Linked DNA regions of Homo sapiens: all the other regions are linked to region 1. Evidence: fine-mapped expression QTL. A gene starts in region 1. Each other region holds a variant in brackets. All regions are shown on one strand. Distances are between the middles of the regions. Region 1 holds the start of FBLN7 (fibulin 7). Region 2 overlaps TMEM87B (transmembrane protein 87B). Region 3 overlaps ZC3H8 (zinc finger CCCH-type containing 8). Region 4 overlaps FBLN7 (fibulin 7). Region 5 overlaps FBLN7 (fibulin 7).

Evidence for each region.
Region 2: its variant is fine-mapped to the expression of FBLN7 in fibroblasts (GENCORD, PIP 0.95).
Region 3: its variant is fine-mapped to the expression of FBLN7 in whole blood (INTERVAL, PIP 0.96).
Region 4: its variant is fine-mapped to the expression of FBLN7 in whole blood (TOPMed, PIP 0.94).
Region 5: its variant is fine-mapped to the expression of FBLN7 in whole blood (TOPMed, PIP above 0.99).

Annotation. Positions count from the first base shown.
Region 1 is chr2:112,136,362-112,141,465 of GRCh38, reverse strand. FBLN7 (fibulin 7) reads right to left here and starts at 3,081. Exons shown (of 8, transcript NM_153214.3): 1 at 2,736-3,081. The coding sequence starts at 2,810. RefSeq lists an enhancer at 551-1,264.
Region 2 is chr2:112,104,918-112,110,021 of GRCh38, reverse strand. TMEM87B (transmembrane protein 87B) reads right to left here. Exons shown (of 19, transcript NM_032824.3): 16 at 3,947-4,020; 17 at 2,182-2,234. Among named protein-coding and RNA genes, the nearest start is that of FBLN7, 31 kb to the left of the region's middle. The variant T/C (reference allele first, on the strand shown) is at 2,732.
Region 3 is chr2:112,235,647-112,240,750 of GRCh38, reverse strand. It overlaps ZC3H8 (zinc finger CCCH-type containing 8), which reads left to right. Exons shown (of 9, transcript NM_032494.3): 3 at 2,223-2,436; 4 at 4,056-4,189. It also overlaps a transcript of FBLN7 not described here. Among named protein-coding and RNA genes, the nearest start is that of ZC3H8, 17 kb to the left of the region's middle. The variant AT/T (reference allele first, on the strand shown) is at 3,171.
Region 4 is chr2:112,185,917-112,191,020 of GRCh38, reverse strand. It overlaps FBLN7 (fibulin 7), which reads right to left. Exons shown (of 8, transcript NM_153214.3): 8 at 2,803-3,887. The coding sequence ends at 3,515. Among named protein-coding and RNA genes, the nearest start is that of FBLN7, 50 kb to the right of the region's middle. The variant G/A (reference allele first, on the strand shown) is at 2,808.
Region 5 is chr2:112,160,358-112,165,461 of GRCh38, reverse strand. FBLN7 (fibulin 7) reads right to left here. Exons shown (of 8, transcript NM_153214.3): 3 at 291-461. Among named protein-coding and RNA genes, the nearest start is that of FBLN7, 25 kb to the right of the region's middle. The variant T/C (reference allele first, on the strand shown) is at 2,190.

The DNA of each region.
Region 1 (5,104 bases):
AATTCTGCCTGCCTGGAATCCCTTCCTGCACCGTAGGGGCCTCTAGGTGGCCATGGGCATGCCTGCCTGGCCCAGGAAGTCAGTCTCTGGCCAGGGAGTATGGGCAAGTGTCTGCAGGCAAGGAAGAAATCTTGGAGCCCAACAAGAGAGACTGGGTTTATTCCGCTCATTTCTGGTTGTGTGACCTTGAATACATCTCATCCTCCCTGGGCCTCACTTTCATCATCTGCAAAATGGGGGTAACAGTCCCCACTTCACAGGGTAGCTCCGGGAATGAAGTGACTGGAAGATGCCCTGCAGGGAGCCTGAGGCGCACCAGGCACTCCGTGTGCAGGCTCTCCGCTGCCCACCGCTGTTGGTATTGTGCAGGTAGCGGGGTCGGCAGTCCATGGCCGGGCCCCTCACCCTGGCTTGCCAGGGCTACTCTGCTGGATGTGGGTCCCGGACTCGGCAATTCAAGTTCTCGCCTTAATTTTAAAAATCAGTTGCTAATGGTTAACATAAAAGCGAATCTGGTCAAGTATTAAACAAATAAATCCGGTGAGATTCGAACAAATGCCAACGGCAAGAACAGAAAAATTAAACAGCAAGCCGCCTGTATATGTGTTTAAGAAAATGTAGTCGCACATCCAGGGCCTCGCCGGCTCGGGAAGGGACCGCTTCGGAAACCTCCCGGGCCACCTCTGCCTGGGAAATGCCACAAACTGCTGAGAAAGTCCCGTGAGTGTTCTGATACTTCGGTTGGAAATTTAAATGTCGGAGTTTGGAGGGCGGGGACGTTCTCTAAGCTAATTAGGTGACCTGGAGCTCTCATGGAGACCCAGGAAAGACCAATGTCTCATAGCTCCCTGAGAAATCTTCTTCCTCCCGGCGGTGCTCACGTGGAGTCCTCGCCCACAATGGACCGACGCTTTCGCAGCCCAGCCCGGGTCCTCCCAGGGGCCCGGCCAGCGATGCATCTGAGGTGACAGGTGGGGGACCCTGCACCTCTCTCTGAAAACTGAACCCCAGCCCAGGCATCGCTCCGAGCTCTCAACCCAGGCATCCGAGTGGAAAGTGGCAAGCCCGGGTCCCCCAGCCTTGGTGCTGCCTCCCCTGCGCGCGGGACAGGGGAGAGAGGAAGGAGGGATGCTGGCCTGGAGAGAGGCAGGAGGGACACTGACCTGGAGAGAGGCGGGAGGGACACTGACCTGGAGAGAGGCGGGAGGGACACTGGCGTGGAGAGAGGCGCGCGGGACAGGGGAGAGAGGCGGGAGGGACACTGGCCTGGAGAGAGGCGGGAGGGACGCTGGCCTGGAGAGAGGCGGGAGGGACACTGGCGTGGAGAGAGGCGGGAGGGACACTGGCGTGGAGAGAGGCGGGAGGGACGCTGGCGTGGAGAGAGGCGGGAGGGACGCTGGCGTGGAGAGAGGCGGGAGGGACGCTGGCCTGGAGAGAGGCGGGAGGGACGCTGACCTGGAGAGAGGCGGGAGGGACGCTGGCCTGGAGAGAGGCGGGAGGGACACTGGCGTGGAGAGAGGCGGGAGGGACACTGGCATGGAGAGAGGCGCGCGGGACAGGGGAGAGAGGCGGGAGGGACACTGGCCTGGAGAGAGGCGGGAGGGACACTGGCGTGGAGAGAGGCGGGAGGGACACTGGCCTGGAGAGAGGCGGGAGGGACACTGGCCTGGAGAGAGGCGGGAGGGACACTGGCGTGGAGAGAGGCGGGAGGGACACTGACCTGGAGAGAGGCGGGAGGGACACTGGCGTGGAGAGAGGCGGGAGGGACGCTGGCCTGGAGAGAGGCGGGAGGGACGCTGACCTGGAGAGAGGCGGGAGGGACGCTGGCCTGGAGAGAGGCGGGAGGGACACTAGCCTGGAGAGAGGCGGGAGGGACACTGGCGTGGAGAGAGGCGGGAGGGACGCTGGCCTGGAGAGAGGCGGGAGGGACGCTGACCTGGAGAGAGGCGGGAGGGACGCTGGCCTGGAGAGAGGCGGGAGGGACACTAGCCTGGAGAGAGGCGGGAGGGACACTGACCTGGAGAGAGGCGTGAGGGACACTGGCCTGGAGAGAGGCGGGAGGGACACTGGCCTGGAGAGAGGCGGGAGGGACACTGACCTGGAGAGAGGCGGGAGGGACACTGGCGTGGAGAGAGGCGGGAGGGACGCTGGCCTGGAGAGAGGCGGGAGGGACGCTGACCTGGAGAGAGGCGGGAGGGACGCTGGCCTGGAGAGAGGCGGGAGGGACACTGACCTGGAGAGAGGCGTGAAGGACACTGGCCTGGAGAGAGGCGGGAGGGACACTGGCCTGGAGAGAGGCGGGAGGGACACTGGCGTGGAGAGAGGCGGGAGGGACACTGGCTGGCCTGGAGAGAGGCGGGAGGGACACTGGCCTGGAGAGAGGCGGGAGGGACGCTGACCTGGAGAGAGGCGGGAGGGACGCTGGCCTGGAGAGAGGCGGGAGGGACGCTGACCTGGAGAGAGGCGGGAGGGACGCTGGCCTGGAGAGAGGCGGGAGGGACGCTGGCCTGGAGAGAGGCGGGAGGGACACTGGCGTGGAGAGAGGCGCGCGGGACAGGGGACAGAGGCGGGAGGGACACTGACCTGGAGAGAGGCGGGAGGGACAGGGGAGAGAGGCGGGAGGGACAGGGGAGAGAGGCGGGAGGGACGCTGGCCTGGAGAGAGGCGGGAGGGACACTGGCCTGGAGAGAGGCGGGAGGGACACTGGCCTGGAGAGAGGCGGGAGGGACACTGACCTGGGAAGCCCGCGGCTCGGGGCAGGCGAGGATCAGGAGCAGAAGGAAGAGCGCGCGCGGAGAGCTGGGCACCATCTTGCCAGTCGGAATCCCGCTGCCTGGGAGGGGAAATAACTTTGCCTCCGCTGCCGAGTTTGTCCCAGCGATGCGGCAGCCGTCCCTGCAGGGTGCGGGGCGCCGCGCGGCCGGGGGGCGGCTGGGGCAGGGGGGGAGGCGGGAGGCCCCGAGCGCAGCGCGTCCCGCGGGGATCGGCGCCGCCCGGGCCTTGCGAGGGTCCAGGTGCGCCCGCAGCTGCCCGCACGAGACAGTCCGCGCGAGGCGGGGAGGCGCCGGCCCCTGGGCTAAGGACGAGGGAGGAGGGGCTGCCCGGCCGGGAATGCGCCCGGGAGCGCGCCCAACCCGCGACGCCGAGGACGAGCGCGGGCATCCTCGGGGCCTGGCAGGGATGGGCGGCCAGTGCCCCGCATATGTGCGGGTGACTGGAAGCCCACCCTGGGCGGGTTCACTCCCGACCGTCCTATTTCCCAACCAAGTAGACTGAGGCTCAGTCACCAAGGACAAGTGGCAGAACAGAAACCCAAACCCAGGTCTGTCCTACTTCAAAGCCCACGCGACACCCTCCTCCCGACATTCCTAGAAGGGGGCCAGGAAATGGGCTTCATAAGCTTGACGTGGGGTGGACTGAGCTCTCCATCCGAATAAACTAGTGTCCCTTTAAATAATGCAATGGGGCCGTGAGAACACGCACGCACAGTGAGTAGATACACACACAGTGATACAGTGAGGGGATCTACGTCCTTCTGATTCACTGTCCTCCTTGCTCAAGGGAAGGAGAAACTCAGTTTAAATCGGAGGTCAGGTTCTAGAACATTGCCTGCCTTGCTGAAGTCGAATCAGGAAGTGCCAGGCCGGCATGAGCAGTCTGAAGTCCCCTGCCATCAGGGCTGTGGTACAACCAGATGCCTCAGACCTGAGCTCCCGGAAGGCATGACTGACGTTCTTCCTGGAAGGTTTTCTGAAGGCAGTCACTGCAGATGTCCTGGGACACACAAGTCTGGTCAAGCCCCAGATCTCTTTTTCCTCTTCCACATTTCACTTTGTTGAGCCCACTCAGAGCTCAGGGAACGGGGAGCCCACAAGACTGTGACCACAGAGCAGGAGCTGTTTCCCAGCAGAGGCCAGAAAGGAAAGCTGGAGTCCTGGCTTAGTCCCTTCAAACTGCTATAGCAAAATACCATAAACTGAGTGGCTTATAAACAATAGAACGTGTTTCTCACAGTTCTGGAGACTGGGAGGTCCAAGATCAAGGTGTCAATAGATTAGGTGTTTGGCGAGGGCCAGAGTTCTGGTTCCCGTGTCCTCACAGGGGAAAGGCAGCTCTCTGGGGCCTCTTTTCTGAGGGCACTAATCCCAATTTTGAGGGCTCTGCACTCATGACCTAGTCACCTCCCAAAGGTCCCACCTCCTAATGCCATCATCTTGGGAATGAGGTTTCCAACATATAAATTTAGGGGAGACACCAACATTCAGAACCTAGCCAGTGCCCCAAAAAGCAGGGGACATGGTTTAGGCTGGCCTCCTGGGCATTGGTTGCCCAGGAAATCCTACAGTGCTGCTCCCCCAACCTTCCCATGCAAAGGAGGTGGAACGGGACCCATGTAAATCTTTTTTTTCTTTGAGACGGCGTCTTGCTCTGTTGCCTAGGCTGGAGTGCAGTGGCCTGATCTCAGCTCACTGCAGCCTTGCCTCCCTGGTTCAAGTAATTCTCCTGCCTCAGCCTCCCAAGCAGCTGGGGCTACAGGCATGCACCACCACGCCTAGCTAATTTTTGTATTTTTAGTAGAGACAGGTTTTCACCATGTTGGCCAGGCTTGTCTTGAACTCCTGACCTCAAATGACCCACCCGCCTCAGCCTCCCAAAGTGCTGGGATTATAGGTGTGAGCCACTGCAGCCTGCAAGGGATCCATGTAATTTTATTTTGCATTCCTGGTTGAACATCCTGAAGAGAGACATGGTCATACCCCTGCTTCTCCCTATCCAGGTGGAGAGGACGGGACAGCATGGCCCGATCCAGGGCAGCCTGTGGAGATGGTGGTTTTCTGCCTCGATCTCTCATGTGTTTGCTGTCTGTACCAAAAGCCAGTGCCCTGCTCCCTCTCTGTCTCTCTGTCCTCTGCCCTATCCTTGAAAAGCTTCCTCCTGGTCAGTGTGGCTGCATTTATTAATATTTTGTGTCCTATCCCACCTTGTGTTTACATGGCGACCTTCTCTGGAAGGCCAGCTGTTCTGGCTCTCAGCCTTGTTCTGGCTATGCGCTGGTAACCAGACATCGGGCAGATGTAAGCAAGCCTTCTTTTCTCTTCTCCTG
Region 2 (5,104 bases), 31 kb after region 1:
GGCCGAGGCAGATGGATCACCTGAGGTCAGGAGTTCGAGGCCAGCCTGGCCAACATGGTGAAACCCCGTCTCTACTAAAAATACAAAATTAGCTGGGTGTGGTGGCGCCTGCCTGTAATCCCAGCTACCCAGGAGGCTGAGGCAGAAGAATCACTGGAACTTGGGAGGCAGAGGCTGCAGTGAGCTGAGATTACGCCACTGCACTGCACTCCACCCTGGGTGAAAGAGCAAGACTCCGTCTCAAAAAAAAAAAAAAAAAAAAGTAGCTGAAGGCACTGGAAAATGACCATGGGACATGGATCTGAGAAGCTCAACAAATTCCAAGGAGGATAGACAAAAAAAAAAAAAAAAAAAAAAGACCATACTTAGGCATATCATAAACACAATGCAGAAAGCCAAATATAAAGGAAAAATCAGAAAAACAGCAAAAGATAAATGTCACATCACACACATGAGAACAATACAATTAATGACTACTTTCTCCTCAAAAACAACAAAAGCCAGAAGATATTGGAAAGACATGTTGGAAGTGCTCAAACAAAAGTCAATCAAGATTTCTATATCCAGCAAAACTATCCTTTAAAAAGGAAGGAAAAGTAAATACATTTTCACATAAATAAAATTGAGAGAATTTGTTGTCAGCAGACCTATCCTATAAGAAATATTAAAGAAAGACCTATAGGAGGAAGGTCTTAGCTCATATATAGAGGAAAGAAAGAAGAAAAAGTAAATACATGGGAAATATAAAAGAATATATACACCCATATTTTCCTTTTCTGACTGCTAAAATAAAAAAGTATAACAGTGTATTGTTAGTTTCATAATGAATAGGCAGTTCTTACTTTGCACAGACTATTTATACATTAATTTCAGTTATCACAGTTTAGTTAAATAACACTAGTCCCCCAACAAGACAGTTTGAATTCCATAGTTAAATATATTTAACACTAGTCCCCAGCAAGGCAGTTTGCATTCCAGTAACTCATAAATGCGATGACATATCACTTCATAGTCACTAAGAGCTAAAATCAAAAAGGTGGACAATAATAAGTGTTAACAAAAAGTTTGGAGAAGTTGGAACCCTCATATATTGCTGATAGGATTATAAAATAATGCAGCTGCTTTGAAAAACAGCTTGGCACTTCCTCAAAATGTTAAACATAGAGTTACCATATGATCTAGCAATTCCACTTTAGGTATACAGCCAAGAGAAATGAAAATATATGCCCACACAAACCTAGAATTATCATATTCATAATGACGAAAACTAAAGATAAAGTTAAAATCCTGAAGGCAGACAATTCCCCAGCCCTTCTCACCCAAAAAAACCTCAACCCACACAAACAAAACCCATATAACATGTGGAGGAACACAGATAAGAACTAAAGCAGACATCTTTCTGAAACTATGAAAGCCAGAAGACATTCAAGTGACCAACCTTTTAAGTGTTGAAAGAAAAAAAAGGTCAACAAAGAATTCTATTCCCACAAAAATTTCTTCAATAAAGGTGAAACAAAGACTTTTTCAGACAAACAAAAATCTGACAGATTCACTACCAGCATACCTGCACTACAAGAAAGAAATGTAAAGGCAATTCTTCAGGCAAAAGGAATATCATAGTACACAGAAGCTATCTAAACAGAAACCAGATGGGGGCTAGGGAGGGAAAGACCAATATGTAAAAAAATTTTATCATACTTGGCTATTCTATTTTTCACTATGGAAACAGCTATCTGGAATTCTTGTGTCAAACAGAACATAGATAAAGAGGATCCTGAATAGCTCAAAGTTTCCAGAGGGGATTCCTATACTCATGTTTTTCCTCCAAAAGCCTCCTCACAATACATGGTGCTGTGGTTACCTTTAAAAAAAAAAAGTTTACATACATTTGACGTTTTCCATAATAGATAAAAAATGAAATGATCCTGATAATGGCAGATCAGAAAAAGCTAGAGTTGGTTAGAGGCCACTAGTTTTAAAATGGTTGCTGTATCGTGAAAAACAAAACAAGCCAGGGTTTTGTTTTCTTTGCAGTTCTGTAAGGGCCATGTACTGGTGATAGGGGCTTACCCAAGTACATGCAAGTACGAGGTTTGAAAAGCACATGACAAAGGATGAGAACGATCCCTTTTAAACTACAGCCTAAAATTTACAATCAAACTGTAACAGAAGATAACTTACACATCTGTGAATGAAGAGGGAATATTTTCTTCTACCCACTTCAAATCTTCATCCTGTAGAAATATTTATACTTAGCATTTGCTTAATATCACCTGACAGCAGAATTTTTAAAACAGAATATATATATAACTTAAGTGTTTAAATGTAAATATTTGACATTCTTTTAGTTTCTACATATGTCCTAAGTTGGCACTCATGCCATACAGAAATTATGCCACTGTTTTCTTACACACGCAAAAATTAGATTTCAGATTTCTACACTTCTTGGTTTTAGTTGGATGTATGAAATATTATTTTTTTTGTCCTGAGAAATCACAGTAAAAACACAAAGTTCATTTGTAAGATAGAAAATAGCAAGGATATTGAATTTTTGCTTTGCCACACTCATTATGCCTCCTAATTTGTTCTAGTTCTTATATAATGAGTTTATAACTTTAAAAAAAATGATGATAATACAAACATTCTTTTTTTTTTTTTTTTTTTGAGACAGAGTCTGACTCTGTCGCCCAGGCTGGAGTGCAGCGGTGTGATCTTGGCTCACTGCAACCTC[T/C]GCCTCCCAGGTTCAAGCAATTCTCCTGTTTCAGCCTCCCGAGTAGCTGGGATGACAGGCACATGCCACCACATCCGCCTACTTTTTGTAATTTTAGTAGAGATGGGGTTTCACCATGTTGCCCAGGCTGGTCTCGAACTCCTGAGCTCAAGCGATCTGCCTGCCTCAGCCTCCCAAAGTGCTGGGATTACAGGCATTAGCCACCGGGCCTGATCTCAAATATTCTAACTTTAGAAAAGCCTATTTATTTGTATCACTCATTTATGCTCATCTCCCTACAGGAGGCAAGAAAAGGAAAGCAGGTCAGCTGAGATAGCTATCTGTCTATGTCTGTCTATCTTATCTAACTACCTATCTATCTATTTTATCCATCCATCTATCCTTTCTATCCATCCCTCCAGTCTATGTTATCCATCTTGTTTATTTATCCATCTGTCTAATCTATTAGAGAATCTGCCAAATCTAACAGATAAAAAATGTCTTCACATATTATCTATCGTGTCAGAACTTATATATGCATACATAAATTTTTACATAGTATTAATCACAGCACATATAGTTATAAGGAAAGTATAAAACTATATGATAGACATTTCCATTTTACATTGTTGTCTTCAAAAACATTTTTATGCATAAATAACATGCAGAAAATATTTTTTAGCTCATCTCTGCCCAATGTTTTACAATTTTATTCAAGCTTCCCACCTCAAAAAAAAAAAAAATCTGTTAATTTTGGTAACCGTGTAGGTAACACATAAAGTTCTTTACCAACAGATAACAAATGTTATTTTAAAATGGCTTCAAAAATCACTTTCATAGGCTGAAAAGTTAACACAAGCTTTTATTGGAACAAAGCTTTCCCATCTCGAATGTGCAGATGAACAGGCTATGGAATCTTTTCAAAAAGCAGATTCCAATTCAGGAGCGTCCGGGGTAGGCCTGAGACTCTGCATCTCTAACAAGTTCCCAGATGATGCTCATGCTGCTGGCCTAGGAACAGCAGGTGAGAAGTGAGATCTACAATGAAGGTATTTCAGTTATGGACAACCAGGATTGCTACTTGGCACTTGGCAACACTAATTTTTATAACAACAACAACAAAATCTTAGTAAAAACTGTTCTTCTGAGAGTCAATGAATATGACACTCGTATAGCTCTCTAAAGTAGTGAAGACTAAGGAAGACTAAGATTGTACTAAATATATACCATACTCACAAAGTTCTCAGAAGTGGCAGGCTTAGCTGTTCCATTGGAAACTGATTTTGAGGCTCTTAATTTTATTCCTTCGGCTACGAGAGACATTATAAACATATATATAAAATCACAAAATAATATTTTCCTTTAGAAATTTAATAATCTGATAAGAAAAAATACTATATCTTTTTAGAAATGGAGGGTTAATAATGGAAACTTTAGGCAGGATGCTGGATTTACCATTTGGGAATGTAGGAAAAATATATGAAAAAAGTTCACAGATTTTTGGAAACTATTTGTCAGAACCACCAGGTTTTCAAGTTTCTTGTTTGAATCCTAGTTTTAGAGTTTAAACAAGTATACATGCATACATATTTCCTTAATTGCAATTATTTTAAAGTTTATGGATTTAAAAATCTTCAGGATTCATGGTACATTCAAGAACAAAACACATCTTTGGGTATGCTTTACATCCCTGATGTACAAATTTTGAAATGTGCGTATGGCATAAAGAAGATAGGAAAGATCAAGATTTCTTTCATATTTGACCAAGGCTCTTCTGCATGTTTGCAGTTTCAGTGGAGCAAAGGCTAAGTGTCTGCCTCACTGGAATCTTGGGCAAGGCAATTAACTTCCTGTGACTTAGTGTTTCTGACTATAAACTGGGGATAATAATAATTTCTACCTCATAGAGTTCTAGTGACCATTGAACAAGTTAGCACATATAAAATGCCTGACACACAATCTATGCCCAGTAAGTAGTCACTTTTGTTATTACACTAATTTGCAAATATTGCTTCTCCATAAACTAGAACAATTATAACATAAGCTGATGTAATAAATAAAAATGAGGTTCCTCAATCCAAAAATGTTTTCCTGGGACATTCAAAACCCCAACATTTCTCTTAGAAGGGGAATACAGTGATTTTTGAACACTGAAGCGTGTGTGTGTGTATATATATATATATTACAAATTTTAAGTGTACAGTCTGAAGAAACCTGACAAATATATACACTTGAGTAACTGCCATGCCAATCAATACAGTTAACATTTCCATTATCACAGAAGGTTCTTTAAGTTCCTTTCTGGTCAATCCCCACCTCACCAAAAGCAACCACTGCTCTGATTTAGATAATCATCTAAATCATGCAACACTTTCATGCAAGATAAACATTTTT
Region 3 (5,104 bases), 99 kb before region 1:
TGTATTTTATATATTTCAATGCCCTCTGAAAAGAATCATTAGTAATATTTATCCCTACTGTATAATAAAACAGCAAAATTGATGATTGTCCTGGCTTTATTAATGTTGCCAGATTGTTTCATGTCTTCATTTAATGTAAGTCCAACGTATTATTACTTGTCGTAAAAGGAGTCTGCTTCAATACTGTAGGCCTATGTGTTTTGTGCAGACAGAGGGAACTTAATCACTCATTTGGATCATTTTAATATTTTGATTCAGATGCACTGAAGAAAATCTCACCTCTATGTATTTGATTAAGCTAAACTTCATAGGAGCTGCTGCATACTGAATAATCTTTTTGGTTCCCCCATGCCTACTAAATAAAATTAAAGGCCAAAACCAAGGTAAACATAATCTATCACAGGAGTCGGCCAACCTTTTCATAAAGGATCAGTTAGTGAATCTTTTCACCTTTGTAGGCCATGTTGTCTCTGTCACAACTAAGACAATATGTAAATGAATGGATGTAATTGGTGTTACAGTAAAACTGTATTTACAGAAACAGGTGGTGAAGCTGAAAATTTGCCAACCCCTGATCTATCAGTCCAGAAGTTACATTTACAAGTTTATTCTATGGTGTTAATGGGGAAAAGGCACTCTTTCTTGAAGACCTAGAGACAAGAAGTTTGGTGGCCTGAAGATAATTGGTTGATAGTCTTGTCTGGTGTAGGGAAGATAAGGTATAATTGAGGCCATTGTCAGATCAAGAAACTTCCTCAGCTTGTTTGGATTCTTTAAGCAGGGAGCAAGTTCATTTTCTAGGCTTATAATCAATCCTCTGGTGGAACAACTCCTAACTTTGAAGTTAACCATCAGAAGTAAACTGTTGCCGGGCATGGTGGCTCATGGCTGTAATCCTAGCACTTTGGGAGGCCGAGGCAGGCGGATCACTTGAGGTCAGCAGTTCAGGACCAGCCTGGCCAATAGGGTGAAACCCTGTCTCTATCAAAAATACAAAAATTAGCTGAGCATGGTGGTGCATGCCTGTAGTCCCAGCTACTCGGGAGGCTGAGGCAAGGGAATCGCTTGAGCCTGGGAGGCAGAGGTTGCAGTGAGCCAAGATCGTGCCACTGCACTCCAGCCTGGGCAATAGAGTGAGAATCCATCAAAAAAAAAAAAAAAAAAAAAAAAAGTAAACTGTTAAATTGGGCCACCTAATATATTTTATAATAGCGATTCTTCTGTTTTGTTTTTTGTCTGTTTGTTTTGAGTTTGCTTCTTAGTTATCATGTGAAAGCAAATAAGAGACCAGGCCCCAAAGTATGCTTTGAAACAAAATCATTATCCACTGTAATGATAGGCATGCCATTTCTTCGTGACATCAGAATAGGAGCCCTTTGATACTTGGTCATTTTTTAAAAATAAACTTTCTGATTAAAATGTGTCATACATACTAATTATAATGATACAGTTTAATATACCTGTGTCACCAAGTGTAGAAACACATGTAACCAATACCTGAAAATTTTTATGCAGAAATTGCTTTAAGTCATTGCTGTCATCAGCCTGGGCTCCTCTAGGATTAGCTCCCATGCCTGGGTTCTTCACCCTTGCCTTGGGCACGTGCAACAACAGAGTTAGGAAACTCTTTCTGCAAGTAAAGTTAACTTGATTACAGAGAATAGGGTAGTTCTTTATTCCTTGTCATCATTGCTGCTACCACTTCTGTGAGTTATAGGAGAAAGACTAGACTTTGGTAGCTTAGATGTATCTTAAGTGTAAGTGGGTTTTCATATGGACCATTACAGTTTACTTGGGGTGTTTTACAAAATGATAAATTATTGAAGACATTTAAAAGTACTGTCAATGCAAAGGCAGAAATGTAATGTGTGAACTGTAATACTGTAATCCTCTCATATCAAATAATTAAGATTTAGGGGTTTAGACTTTTAATTCAGTCAAAGGCACACAATGTACAAATTTAGAATTTTCCCTCAAATCATCTTTAAGGATAGATATGTCATAGTGGTTTGTTAGTTTGTTTTTAATTCTGGAAATTTTTTCTTTTTTTTAATTCTGGAAATTTTCAAATATATGAGTGGAGAGAATAGTATATGAATCCCATGTACCTATTACCCACCTTCAACAATGACCAGTTTATAGCCAATCTTGTTTCTTCTGTATAGCCAGATTGTTTTGAATCATGCTAGGTTTTTAAAATTGAAGTTTTAATTTTTACTTAGTTTAGACACTCTGCAATATCACCAAAAAGTTCGCTGCATAGAAAATCAAGAAGTAAGGACTATGATGTATATAGTGATAATGATATCTGCAGTCAGGAATCAGAAGATAATTTTGCCAAAGAGCTTCAACAGTACATACAAGCCAGAGAAATGGCAAATGCTGCTCAACCTGAAGAATCTACAAAGAAAGAAGGAGTAAAAGATACCCCACAGGGTAAGAGTCAAACTATTTTATCATTTAAAGTTTATCTAGAGAAGCAGTCACAGTTGTCCATATACGGACAGAGGATTTTTCTTTGCACTTTATCTTATGATAAGACTATGGTTTTCATGAATATTTATACCAGACATGAGCTTGCATGGCCAGAGACCCCATCTGAGACCTGGCCACTTGGTGCATTAAATGCTTAGTTTGTAGAGGGAGCTGGAGGATGGAGGTGGGTTATCAAAGGCCCTGACTATTTCTAAAGGGAGAATGCTAAAGCCCTGGCCTCTGCATGTGTGAAGGATAGGATATGCCTGCTTGTATTGCTGTCATTTAAAGAGGATTGACTGGAATGGTTGTATGTCAGACTGTAACTCAGAAATATATTCTTCTAGATTACTAAAATGAGATTTAGCCATAAATATGAGGGCAAATGGCAATTATAAATGAAATTTTTGGCCAGGCATGGTGGCTCACGCCTGTAATCCCAGCACTTTGGAAGGCCGAGGCTGGTGGATCACTTGAGGTCAGGAGTTCGAGACCAGCCTGGCCAACATGGTGAAACCTAAAAATAAAAAAAAGTATCAGGGTATGGTGGCACATGCCTGTAATCCCAGCTACCCTGGAGGCTGAGGCACGAGAATCACTTGAGCCTAGGAGGCAGAGGTTGCAGTGAGCCGAGATCACACAGTGCACTCCAACCTGGACAACAGAGCGAGACTCTGTCTCAAAAAAAAAAAAAA[AT/T]TAAAATTTTAATGCTGTCATTTTTTTGTTGTTTTCTTTACTTAAAATGGATCTGTATTGCTTGAGCCCAGGAGTTCGAGGCTCCAGTAGACTATGATTATGCCATTGCAGGATAGATGGATAAATGCGTGCACGGATAGATAAATAAATAAAAACTTGATCTATTTAAAATGTTTTCAGTGAAAAATCTGACAGTAATTTATGAGGTCATTGTAAACACTTAAAGTTTTACTGTTGCAGTTCCTAATTAGATCCATCATACTCTGAACACTTCAAAAGGATCTGCCTTAGAACTTATAAGACTGATTTTATTATCTTGCTTTTTTCTTGACAATACCTTATATATTTTTAAAAACAATGAATGGGGAATCCAGGATGTATTATCATAATTCTCTTTTTGGTCCCTTAGTCCCAGAGCTTCTAGGAAAACTGATCACTATCATGCCAGTTTTCACTTATTGAGCCTTAGAGAACTTTCCTCAATTATTGTAAATCATACTTCTTTTTTCCATTTGTTTTGCGACAGGTTCTCACTCTGTTGCCCAGGCTGGAGTGCAGCAGTGCAGTCATAGCTCACTGTAACCTTGAACACCTTGGCTCAAGCAATCCTCCTGCCTTAGCCTATAGTCCCAGAGTAGCTGGACTACAGGCGTGCACCACCACACCCAGCTATGTTTTTGTAGAGACAAGATCTCTAGGCTGCCTAGGCTGGCCTTGAACACTTAGGCTGGCCTTGAACTCCTAGCTTTGAGCAGTCCTCCTGCCTCAGCCTCCCAAAGAGCTGGGATTACAGACATGAGCCACTGCACCTGGCCCCGTACTTCTTAAAAGTAAACTGCTATTGTAACTTTATGTCATTTTTTAAATTAATTTTTTGTTTTTAGCTGCTAAACAAAAAAATAAAAATCTTAAAGCTGGTCACAAGAATGGCAAACAGAAGAAAATGAAGCGAAAATGGCCTGGCCCTGGAAACAAAGGATCAAATGCTTTGCTGAGGAACAGCGGCTCACAGGAAGAGGTATTGGAATATATGCTTCTAGGAATACCTGACCCCTGCATGCTTTTGGACTTGATCTTATACTTCAGTGACAAGAAGTGCTATGTGATATGGAGAGGTGGAAGCATCCCACAGAATCGGTTTTCGGATGAAGATGTCCTTTTACTGTCACTGGGTTCTCTGTGTTCTTCCTTCTTATTGCAGCTTTCTTTTTCTCACTGATTAGCTGCCAGCACCACTTTTAAGCCTTAGCGTTCTCACTGTTGTTCCTGAATATATGCACACAAGCTCCTTGATTTTTTTTATTATTGTTATACATATATTTTTTTGAGACAGAGTCTCGCCTTGTAACCCAGGCTGGTGCGATCTCGGCTCACTGCAAGCTCCGCCTCTCGGGTTCAAGTGATTCTTCTGCCTCAGCCTCCTGAGTAGCTGGGACTACAGGCGCCCGCCACCATGCCCGGCTAATTTTTGTATTTTTAGTAGAGACAGGGTTTCGCCATGTTGGCCAGGATGGTCTTGAACTCCTGACCTCAGGTGATCCACCTGCCTCGGCTCCCACCACCCACCACCTCCCTAAGTGCTGGGATTACAGGCATGAGCCACTGTGCCTGGTCACTCCTTGATTTTTTTTTTTTTTTTTTTTAGTGTTATACTATCAATGACTCGGGAAAAATGGGAAGCCCAGAGAAGATCAAATAGTCATGAGGCATTTCAAAGGCCACTGAGTCTTACAAATTTTTTACTACTAAAGTCCCTCATCCTGGCTCCCTCTGGAAATTAAAAATCAATATTTCTGAGCATTGGCCTTACTGAATCTCCCCACTCCCCACCTTCCTGTATTTTGATTTTGGTTTTTAGAAGTTCCCTTTCCTTGGTCTGTAGATGTAAGCAGGGTAGAATAATAAGTACCTCTTCTGGATTCCACTTTTCTGA
Region 4 (5,104 bases), 50 kb before region 1:
GAGTGACACAGAGAGACCCTGTCCCTATGCCAGTTCTCCCCTCTAACTAACAAAAAACCCACAGTAGTCCTGAATTAAATTGGAAGTATCAGCATGAACTCATGTAGTGTTTTATCTTAAAAAATACTAATAATACATATTTCCTAGCTCTAGCCACTAAAGCCAAGAAACTATGATGTAACCACTACCAATGAGCACTCTGAGCACTCAGACCTTGATGTCTAATTACCATCCCCCACTAGAAGGAACCAGGGATTACTGGGAGAAAACAGCTGATTTCAGGGCAGGGGCAGAAAATATACAGGATGAAAAAGACTACTAGGGTCATGTCAAAAGGAATCAGCCACCTCGAAGCAGCTCCCAAGAACCAAAGATAGAACAATTTGAGCAAAAACAAAGACAGTAGCTGTAATTACTATTAATACAGATGATAACACACATGATAACATCAGATATGTTTCAACCATGAGTTCATAATGTACTCAAAGAAGAAAACAACTCTCACAGGGCATGTTGGAAAGATGCCTGTGAACCATCTCATTTTGAAAACTGAAAAATAAAGGGAGGAAAGCCAAGAATCAATCCTACTTTTCTTATACAAACCAAATCTCAGGGTAACCAAATAACTGATGAGAGTGTGTTTCTCTTTATAAAGTATGTCAGCTAATAAACAAAGAAAAAATCAATAGCACTAGAATATTAATTGCAATCCCTACAGAAGTAATGGATCTGTGCAATCTGCGGGGGCTAACATCAGAAAAGAGAGGCAACCAGATATTTTGCTCCTCCTACTGGAAGCATCTGTCACCACCAATAAAGTAGTCTTGCCTAAATAAATCTAACTTGAATCTGACTAACTCTCTAGATTTATAAGAAATAGAGAAGACAGAGATGCACTCAGAAAAACTCATACTGTGAAAAATTCTACAATATAAATGACCCTATATTTTGTCTTCCAACAAACCTTCAGATTATTCCAATATATGCTGAAGTGTGAGACCCACTGCTACAGATTAAAAAAAGGCTTAAAATGCATATCAATAAATCACAGTGCATAGACCTACTGCAAGTAAACAAAAAAATATAAGCCACTCAGAGAAATGTCAACGATGGCTGAATATTTAAAGGTATTAAGGAATTAATGTTTTAGATGTGAATGGCATTTTGGTTATCCTTTTTTTAAAAGTTGTCTTTTAGAGATACATTCTAAAATATTTATAGATGAAATGATAGGATTGGGAATCATCATGAGGTGGGGTGATAGCAGATGAAACAAGTTGGCCATGTGTTCATTGTTGAAGCTACTGATTCAGACATGGGGTTCATTATACTATTCTTTCTACTTTTGCATATGTTTGCAACTTTGCATGATAAAAAGTCTTAAAGCCCCTCCCTCAAATAATATGAAACTATATTACCTGGAAAGGGGTGCAAATGAATTCTGGTTAACCAGTAGTTACTCTTAGTACAGAGTGGAGCTCTGAAAGGACAAAAGAAAAGTTGATTCCATAGAGGAGAGTGAGGAGAGAGCATATAGAGAACAAGACACTCCACAGGGAGAAGTGCCCAGCCATTATCCACAAAAGACCCATCATCCACATCATCCACAAGAAGTGCCCAGCCATCATTGTCCACAGCCATCATCCACATCCTAAGCAGTCAGCCATTTGTACTTTGGTGCTGTGGGCACCGGGGCTGGGTGCGTGATTTCATCAGTGGGAAGCAGGTTTGATGACGGCAGATCTTGGTGATGGAAATTGTTGCTTTAAACTGGGCTGTTTGGCATCAAAGCCCTATCATATACCAGTTTAGAGGGCACCTGCTCTGGAGACTCCCCAAACACTCCCCACCTTCTGGCATGTGAGAGGCTTGTCCCCCTGAACACATCATATCTCAATATATCCCACATATATCCCACATCATATGTCATCATATCTCACATATGATGTGTGTGATGTGTGGGCTGTCCCTAGCCCACAGCTGTGACATCTCCCATTCAGGAACCTGGCCAGGCCCTTAGACTCTTCCGCCTGGTGTTGTGCACATGGGACTGGGTGGTGTGCAGGCTTCTGGCCCAGCATAGCTACATTTAGAAACATAAGGCTGTGGATAATGTTTTAATGAAGTCTTGTAACTTTAGTTTGCATGTCCTTTTTCTGTTGTTAGAGATCGCAGCTGAGCCCATGGGAGAAGAAACATTTCAAAAGCAACTCTTGACTGTGTCTCAACCTTTGTCCAAACAACAGTACAAGAATAAACCATCTTAGAAACCATCTTGATGTAGGGCTTGATCATTGAACTAGTGACACACTTCTGGCTCCATCTCATACCAGGGCAAATACAAAGATTTAAATAAAATATGTGTGAGGAAATCTCACCAGCAGCTTGACATGTAATTAGATAATGAAACTTTCTTACAGCTTCGCTACCTCTTAAGTTTTAGCTTGAATGATCTTCCCCACCCTACCCCATACCCCATCCTACCACACCCCACTCAGCTCTGGCCAGTGTTTTCTCTCTTTGATCACCTGGAGGGCGTCACCCTGTAGTGAATTCATCAGAAACAAAAGGCCATGGAATCTATGACAACTCAAGCATTTTCCTAAACTCTCCACGGCCAGGTATTGTCCTTACCAATCTCCCATGTGGTCAAAACAAATTTATAATGTGGAACAGTCCCAAACATCACCTCTGTGTTCTCTGACTCATTTATTCCAGTGTATCCAACCCAGACAGGAAGAGAGTCAGCCACCCCCTCCTAGAAGGAAGTGGGCTGTCTCATGCTCAGGTAGAAGTCAGGCGGGCAG[G/A]AAGGAGCAATCACTTTTATTTTTTCAGTTATATTACCAGGTTATGTATTTGAGATATGATTTCTCAAAAGGGAAGTAACTCAGGCAGAATCCATGCTTTTAACAATGGGTCCTTGGTCTAGAAGGATCTGCGTGGGGTTTAAGGCCCTCCTGTGACTCTCTGATGAGAAGGCAGGCAGGCAGGCATGTCACAGAGGAAAAGGCAGATAAGAACAACGTGCTGGGTCATGGGAGGAGACTCCACTTCCTATGCCACATGCGCAGAGGCATGACTAGGGCCCCCCGCACGACTAGAACCGTTTCATTCATAGCAAGCCTGGCTACAAAAAGGCAGAAGGGCTGATAGTCACCTGACACACATTGCCACCTTTTCTCTCCCCAGCTAGTTCAAACTCACAAGGCCATTTGCACAGCATTTTGGAAAGCCACCCATCCCCTGGATGAAAAAGTTTTAAGAAAGTTAGTGCATAATCTAAGGGAAGGGCCTCAAAGCAGAAAAAAAAAAAGAGTGATGGCAGCAGTTGAGTTTTGTGGCTGCTCTTCCGTGCTATTCCATGGGGCGCCGTGCAACGCTGCCCTAGAAGCCTGGGTGCACTGGTGAGAGGGCGGGAACAGGCGGGAGGCTCCACGCAGTCGGTGCCCGAAGCTGAGCCTTCGGGGAAGAGAAATGAGGTCAGCTCTCCACACCCCAGTGCCCCTGTGTACCCTCAGAAGTCATAGGGGGATACAAAGATGGTGACCTTGGACACGTGGTTGGCCTGGAAGGAGCGGTCCAGGTATTCCGACATGTCGACGTCCACCTCCAGCGTCTGAGGCCCCTCCAGGTTCTGCACAAGGATCAGATCCCCAGTCTGCCGGTCTGAACGCTGCATCACAAAGTGGCCGCGGCTGTTCCCACCCACGATCCCAAACCGCAGGCTGTTGGGCCCAGCTCGGCCGGGGGCAGAGGCTGTGGCCATGCGGAAGAGCGTGATGGGCGTCTTCAGGTTGGAAGGCAGAGAGAGGTAATGGAAGGAGATGGTCTTGGGCAGATGGCGGCAGGGCCTGCTGTCCATGGGGCAGGGGTTCCGCTCACACTGGCTGGAGCGGAGAGGCAAAATGGAGGCAGTCAGCCTTGGGGAGTCTCATGAAGAGCTGCTCTGACCCGGCTGCCCACCTGCCCTCTTGCAGAGGCCACCTAGATGACCTTTCCCAGCCACGGGTCCTTCACCCAGGAGCTATGGAGCTGTGGACGAGTGAATGTAGCTGGTGTCAGGCATGGCAAAGGAAGGGCTGCTGCTTCTGTTCCTGCTCAAGGGTGCTCCCTGCCCACCTGTGTACGTGTGTATGTGTGTGCACATACATTTATTTATGCTATTACTATCATTTTTACAGAAAAATATAGCCTGGGAATATTAAATAACAATGGCAATGCTGATATTCAAACCAGGTGCCCTTTCTCCATGTGCTGCGACCTCGCCCAGTAATGGCAGGACCTCAGCAGTTAGCCAGCAACATCCTGTAATGCAGTGCTTCCCACACGGTGTACGGTGAACTTCCTAAACACAGCAGCATGTATTTTATTTATTTATTTTTAGACAGAGTCTCACTCTGTCGCCCAGGCTGGAGTGCAATGGCATGATCTAGGCTCTCTGCAACCTCCACCTCCCAGGCTCAAGTGATTCTCCTGTCTCAGCCTCCTGGGTAGCTGGGATTACAGGTGCCCACCACCACGCCCAGCTAATTTTTGTATTTTTAGTAGAGACGGGGTTTCACCATGCTGGCCAGGCTGGTCTCGAACTCCTGATCTCAAGGGATCCGCCCTCCTCGGCCTCCCAGAGTGCTCGAATTATAAGCATAAGCCACTGTGCCTGGCCATCACGTGTATTCTCAACGCAGGAAGCCCTGTTTTCCTTAATCATTTGGAAAGAGGGTCTTGTGGAAATGCTTTCGATATTTCTCTATGTTGTTAAAAGACAAATGCAATCTAGTATATTTGGCGATTCTGTAGCATCATGATTATGCAGTCAACTGTCACATCCAGCTGTTGGTCGAATGCCCCAGAGGCCGTCATAGACCCGTTCCCTATCCCTTCACCGAGTGACTTCATGAGGAAGGTTCTGATGTCTTCACTCTCTCTAAAAACTGCCATGCTTCAGTGCCACTAAGTTTCTTGCTGCTTCTAATCTGCTTTAACTCAACAGCAATTCAAATAATTAAGTTACCCTCCATGGCTGTTACTTCATTTTAAAGACAACGCTAGGGCTCTTGTGATCTCTTTTTGAGAGGAAAATGTATGTGCTTTGTGATAGTTGTAG
Region 5 (5,104 bases), 24 kb before region 1:
CCCCTAGCTGTGTAACCTTAGGCAAGTTCTTGAACCTCTGTGTGCCTCAGTTTCCCCATATGCAAAACAAGACTAAATTATTGTGAAGATATAGTGAGCTCATACAGATAGAGACCAGCGCCAACCTGGCATGGAGGTGAGTGATCAGGCACATTGGCTGCTGTTCTGTGGTTGAGGAATGATTAAAGAACCAAGCAGAAAATGTTCCAAGGAATGACCCTTTCTATGCAAGAAACCCTTGCTATACTGTGATGGGTCCAGCGCAGTGGGATGGGAAGGAGAGACGATACCTCTACAGTGGGGCTGCTCCCCTGTCCAGGTGCCATTGGGAAGACACACCACGCTGCTGGGCCCGACCAGCCGGAACCCAGGGTTGCAGGTAAAATGGACTTCGTGATCCACTAAGTACTTGCTTCCAAACTTTCTGCCGTCTGCGGGGGTGTTCAGAGCCGGGCAGGAAACTGTAAGGAGAGATGGAAGGATTACGAGCTCCTCATCCTGGACCACAGCCCTTAGACATTACTGAATTACAGGACTTCCCATCTCGAAGTGCCCTCTGTTGCATGCCTGCTGCAGGCTGTGCACTGTGCTGGTCATTCTGCATGCTGCGTCTCATCAAGTCCTCAAAGCTCTCTTGGGGATGGGTGGTACGATGCCTGCTTAGCAAAAGGTGATGAGACTGGGGCTCAGAGACACTAAGTGCTGTGTGCAAGGCCTCGAAGCGTGGGAGGCCCACCCTGCAATGATCCGCTTCATCACTGCCACCTACTCACTCTGATTTTCTGGGGCTCCAGCCCCCCTGGGTTTCTTTAGGTCTCCTGAACAGGCCGGGCTCAGCCCCAGCTCCAGGCCTGGGATTTTGCTCTTCTCTCTGCCTGGAATGTTCTTTCCTCAGAGCTTCCACAACTGGCTCCTTCTCACTCTCCAGGTTTCCACTCATATGCCACCACCTCCCCGCGTGTTCCCTGGCCACCGTGCCTAACCCAGACCTCCCCAGACACTCTTCCCCAGGTGCTCACTCTGCTGTCTTCTCAGTATCTGTAACCATCCGAACTTTCTTATTGACTTGCCTCTTTCTAGATATGCGGTCAGTCCTCTCCATCAGAATGCATCTGGCCTATGTTCCTGTGTATCCCCAGCACCAGCCCACTGCCTGGCACATAGTGAATACTGGATAAATCATAAATCATTCTTGAACAAATGAATGAATGGAGCCTTATTTATTGCATCTTTACTATGTGCCAGGCACTATATTAGGGACTTAGGCAGGCACTATATTAGGGACTTGGGCTATATCCATGAACAAAATAGACAAAACCCAACCCTCAGGAAGCCCACCATCTAGCAGGGGAGATAATAAGCAATGGCGAAGTGTGGGGCCATGTAGAAAATGAAAGCAGGGAATGATGCTGGAGATGCTGGAGAGAGGGCATCATTTTGAATACAGTGGTCAGGGCAGGCCTCACCAGAACGAGTTGAAGGTGAAGGCACAGCCAGACAGATGTCTGGGGAGGGCAGAGGGACAGCTGGTCAAACATCCTGAGGTGGGGATGTGCCTGGCAGGTCTGAGGAATGTCAAGGAGGCAACAGGACTGGAATAGAGTGGACGAGGTGGAAAGTAGTTAGACATGAGTCAGGCAACAGGATCAAGACAGCTCAGAGTTACACGGGGCATTGGAAAGAAAACAAAAAGGCCATGCAACTTGTTCTCCGTGTGAGACCGGGCCTCTGGAGGTCTCTCTCAGCAGCACTCCTGCTGCGGTTTGATTGTGAAGTGCCCGTACAAGAGGAAGGGGAGGGAAGCTCAGGCCAGGGTAGTAGCTGAGCATGAGGGACATGGTTCGAATCCTGGCTGCTCTGTGAAGATTTCCCGAAGGACTGATGTGGTTGGAGAGAGACGGGGTGAAGCTAGCCTGTTCCTCTTCTTTTTGCAACAGAGCATCACGCATGGGCGACGAGGGAATGCCCAAAGTTAGGATGGCTTGGATTTGGATTCAGTTTAGATGGAAATTCAGAGCCACTTCTAAAATGCATTTAAGGTAAATTCCAAGTGTCATTTGCCATGTTCATATTTTAAACAGGCACAAACAGAACTGTTGCTTCAACTGTGCAGGTCAAAGCAAGTGACAGAGTCACTGAGCATCCCCCATGAGGATGCACTGATCAGGGGTGTCCTGGACCAGAGGCCA[T/C]TAAGGAGCGTGATGGGCCTCCCTGTCCAGGAGTGCAGCTGGCAGGATGGTGTAGCCCTGCCCAAAATCCCACCTGGGCCGGACACAACCTAGGGTTCTTTGAGGAGCAGCCGTGGCAGCCTGAGCTGGGGCGGAGGGAGGTGCCGGACCCTCCGAGGATGCTCGGTGGCCTTTGGTGATTGGGGAATATCTGCCCATTGCTGCATCGCCTTCCTTGAGTAAAGCTCCAAGTTGGCCCCCAGTGGTAATAACCTTGTGAGTAGCAAGCGAGTGAGAGCTCACATCCCAGGACTCGGCTGCTCCCGGGGTTCTGCCTCAGCCTCTGAAATAAATTACTTTATAGTTCTTTTTTTTTACATCTAGTACTTTATTGCGTTAAAGAGTTTTAAAATGCATTGGGGGAAAATAGTAGGGTCTCTTTGGGGATGAAAAATCTTTAAAAACCTCGACAAAAGAAAACTACCTGCAACTCACAAATACACCATACCTGAATAGATTGAACAGTATCTGGCACTTAATAGATGCTTAATAAATGTGAATGGAGTGGATTAATGGATACAAATTAATTAAAAATCAATTTGTAGTCACATCCCAAATGGGAGCTGAAGGCCCTTCTCTAGTGACAGAAGGGGAACGTGTCCTTTGGTTGATTCTGTTGGCGAGAAGCACATCCTACTGAGTGTGCAGAGCCACAGCGAAGCTCCCTGCGCCTTCCGAGGTGAAGTTAGCATGTAAGGAGTGAGACCCACAGTTAAGCAGTCTCAGCAACATGGGGACATGAATCCGCTGAGGCTGCTCTGGATGAACCCTGAAGCTGATGGGTTGTGATGATGCACCCAGGAAACAGGAGGGAGGTACTTCATATGGAAGCCAGAGAGGAAGACCAAGAATTCTCCAGAACTGGAAATTATTCTTCCTGACTCCCAGCAAATTCCCTTAAAAAAAAAAAAAAAAGGCAAAACAGGCCTGGCACAGGAGCACCCGCCTGTAATCCCAGCACTTTGCGAAGCTGAGGCTGGAGGATCGCTTGAGCCTGGGAGTTCAAGATCAGCTTGGGCAACATAGTGAGACCCCATCTTTACAAAATTTTCAAAATCAGGTGCAGTGGTGTGCACCTGTAATCCTAGCTACCTAGGAGGCTGAGGTGAGAGGATCGCTTGAGCCTGGGAGGCTGCAGTGAACTAGGATCACTCCACTGCTCTCCAGCCTGGGTGACAGAGCGAGACCTTGTCTCTCTTTTAAAAAGCAATAAGGTAGTTTTCCCACTATGTGCCATTTGATCTGGGCAGGTGTCTGGCTTTCCTCCAGGTGCGGGCCCAACCCCCACCACACCCTGAAAAGGGATCCTGACAGCTGCCTGTCCTCTGCAGGGCTGTCACAGGATCAGCCTCTGCACGCATAAAGTACCCAGCACGGGGTCCCCCACACACTTAGAAATACAATACATGATGGCGATTTTTTAAAAAGAGAATTTGGCACTTTAAAAAATGTTGTACATTTCAGAGATGAAAGCCCCTGAATCTTGGGAAGGAGGATGAATAATGTAATAATAACTGCCTTTCTATCTGTCTAGCGGGCAGGGCCCTCTCACATGGGCAGGGCCCTCTCACATGGGCAGGGGAATTGTATAACATTCCCTGTGGGCTCCACTGAAACTCCCAGGGACCGCAGGCAGCTCTGACCCCATGAAAACAAGGAAGGCTTTGTGGAGTCAGGCCTTGACCGCTAACTTACTTGTCTTGGCCTCAGTTTCCCCATCTGAGGCAGGAAGGAAAGACACCCTGCCTGCACCATGGAGTTGGGGTGTGTGGAGCCCCAGTGAGGGCTTGGGCCTCACAGTGCCTTGGAAAGTGTGAGGCTTGGCTGGTGGTTATTTCTGCAGCTGTGGAGCCAAGGAAAACAGGAACGGACTCAGTGCCGTTGAGAGCTGGATTTGCCACCATCATCTCCGAGAAGGTAGGAAATCCAACGCCTTCCCCAGGAAACTTCAACTCACTCAACAAAGACAGCCCTTGATAAATGTGTCTGCAGTGAGTAAATGATGTCAGATATTCCACAGGCTCCTGACTTTGAATGAACATGATGACTGGCCCCTGTCCCCCAGCACCCTAAGACACCGGAGGAAAACCAGCCGCCCATCTCTGGGTCTTGGCGGTGTGAAAGCTGTTACAGGGCAAGCATGAAAAAGTGCCCTTGTGTCTGTCAGAGTCCTGCCCTCATGGGAGGGAGTCTGGGGTGTCGGCTGTAGCCTCATCAGACAAGTGGAACTTGTCCTCAGCAGCCCTTCCCTCCCAACCGTCCTGGTACTAACGGGGACTCCCTGGAGGGTGCACTTTCACGCCTGAAGCACTGGAGCCAACCTTGGTCATGGACTGGAACCAGTGTATTGCACTGGCTCGGGCTGAGTGTGTGTGTGTGTGTGTGCGCGTGTGCGTGCGTGTATGCGTGCTTGTGTGTGCGTGTGTGTGCGTGCGTGTGTGCGTGTGCGTGCGTGTGCGTCTGCGTGTGCGTGCGTGTGTGCGTGCGCGTGTGTGCGTGTGCGTGCGTGTGCGCGTGCTTGTGTGTGTGCGTGCGTGTGTGCGTGTGCGTGCGTCTGCGTGTGCGTGTGCGTGCGCGTGTGCGTGCGCGTGTGTGTGCACGCACAGAGGGTGTGGAGGAACGCAGTGCTTTCCACTCAACTCTGCTATGAACTTAAAACTGCTCTAAAAAATTATCTTAAAGTAAAATCAAAAATGAAAACAAAACCAAAACTGGATCCAACTTGTGGACGGGGAAGGGAAAAGCAGTGCGTGATCTAAAAGTGGCGCCTTGCAACAGTTTGGTCCGTATGAAGACGTGATAGTTGTTAAGGCCAGAATGAAAAGGCTGAAGAAGAAAAGGGGTGACATTGAGGCTGAGGGAGAAGAAAGGGGGCA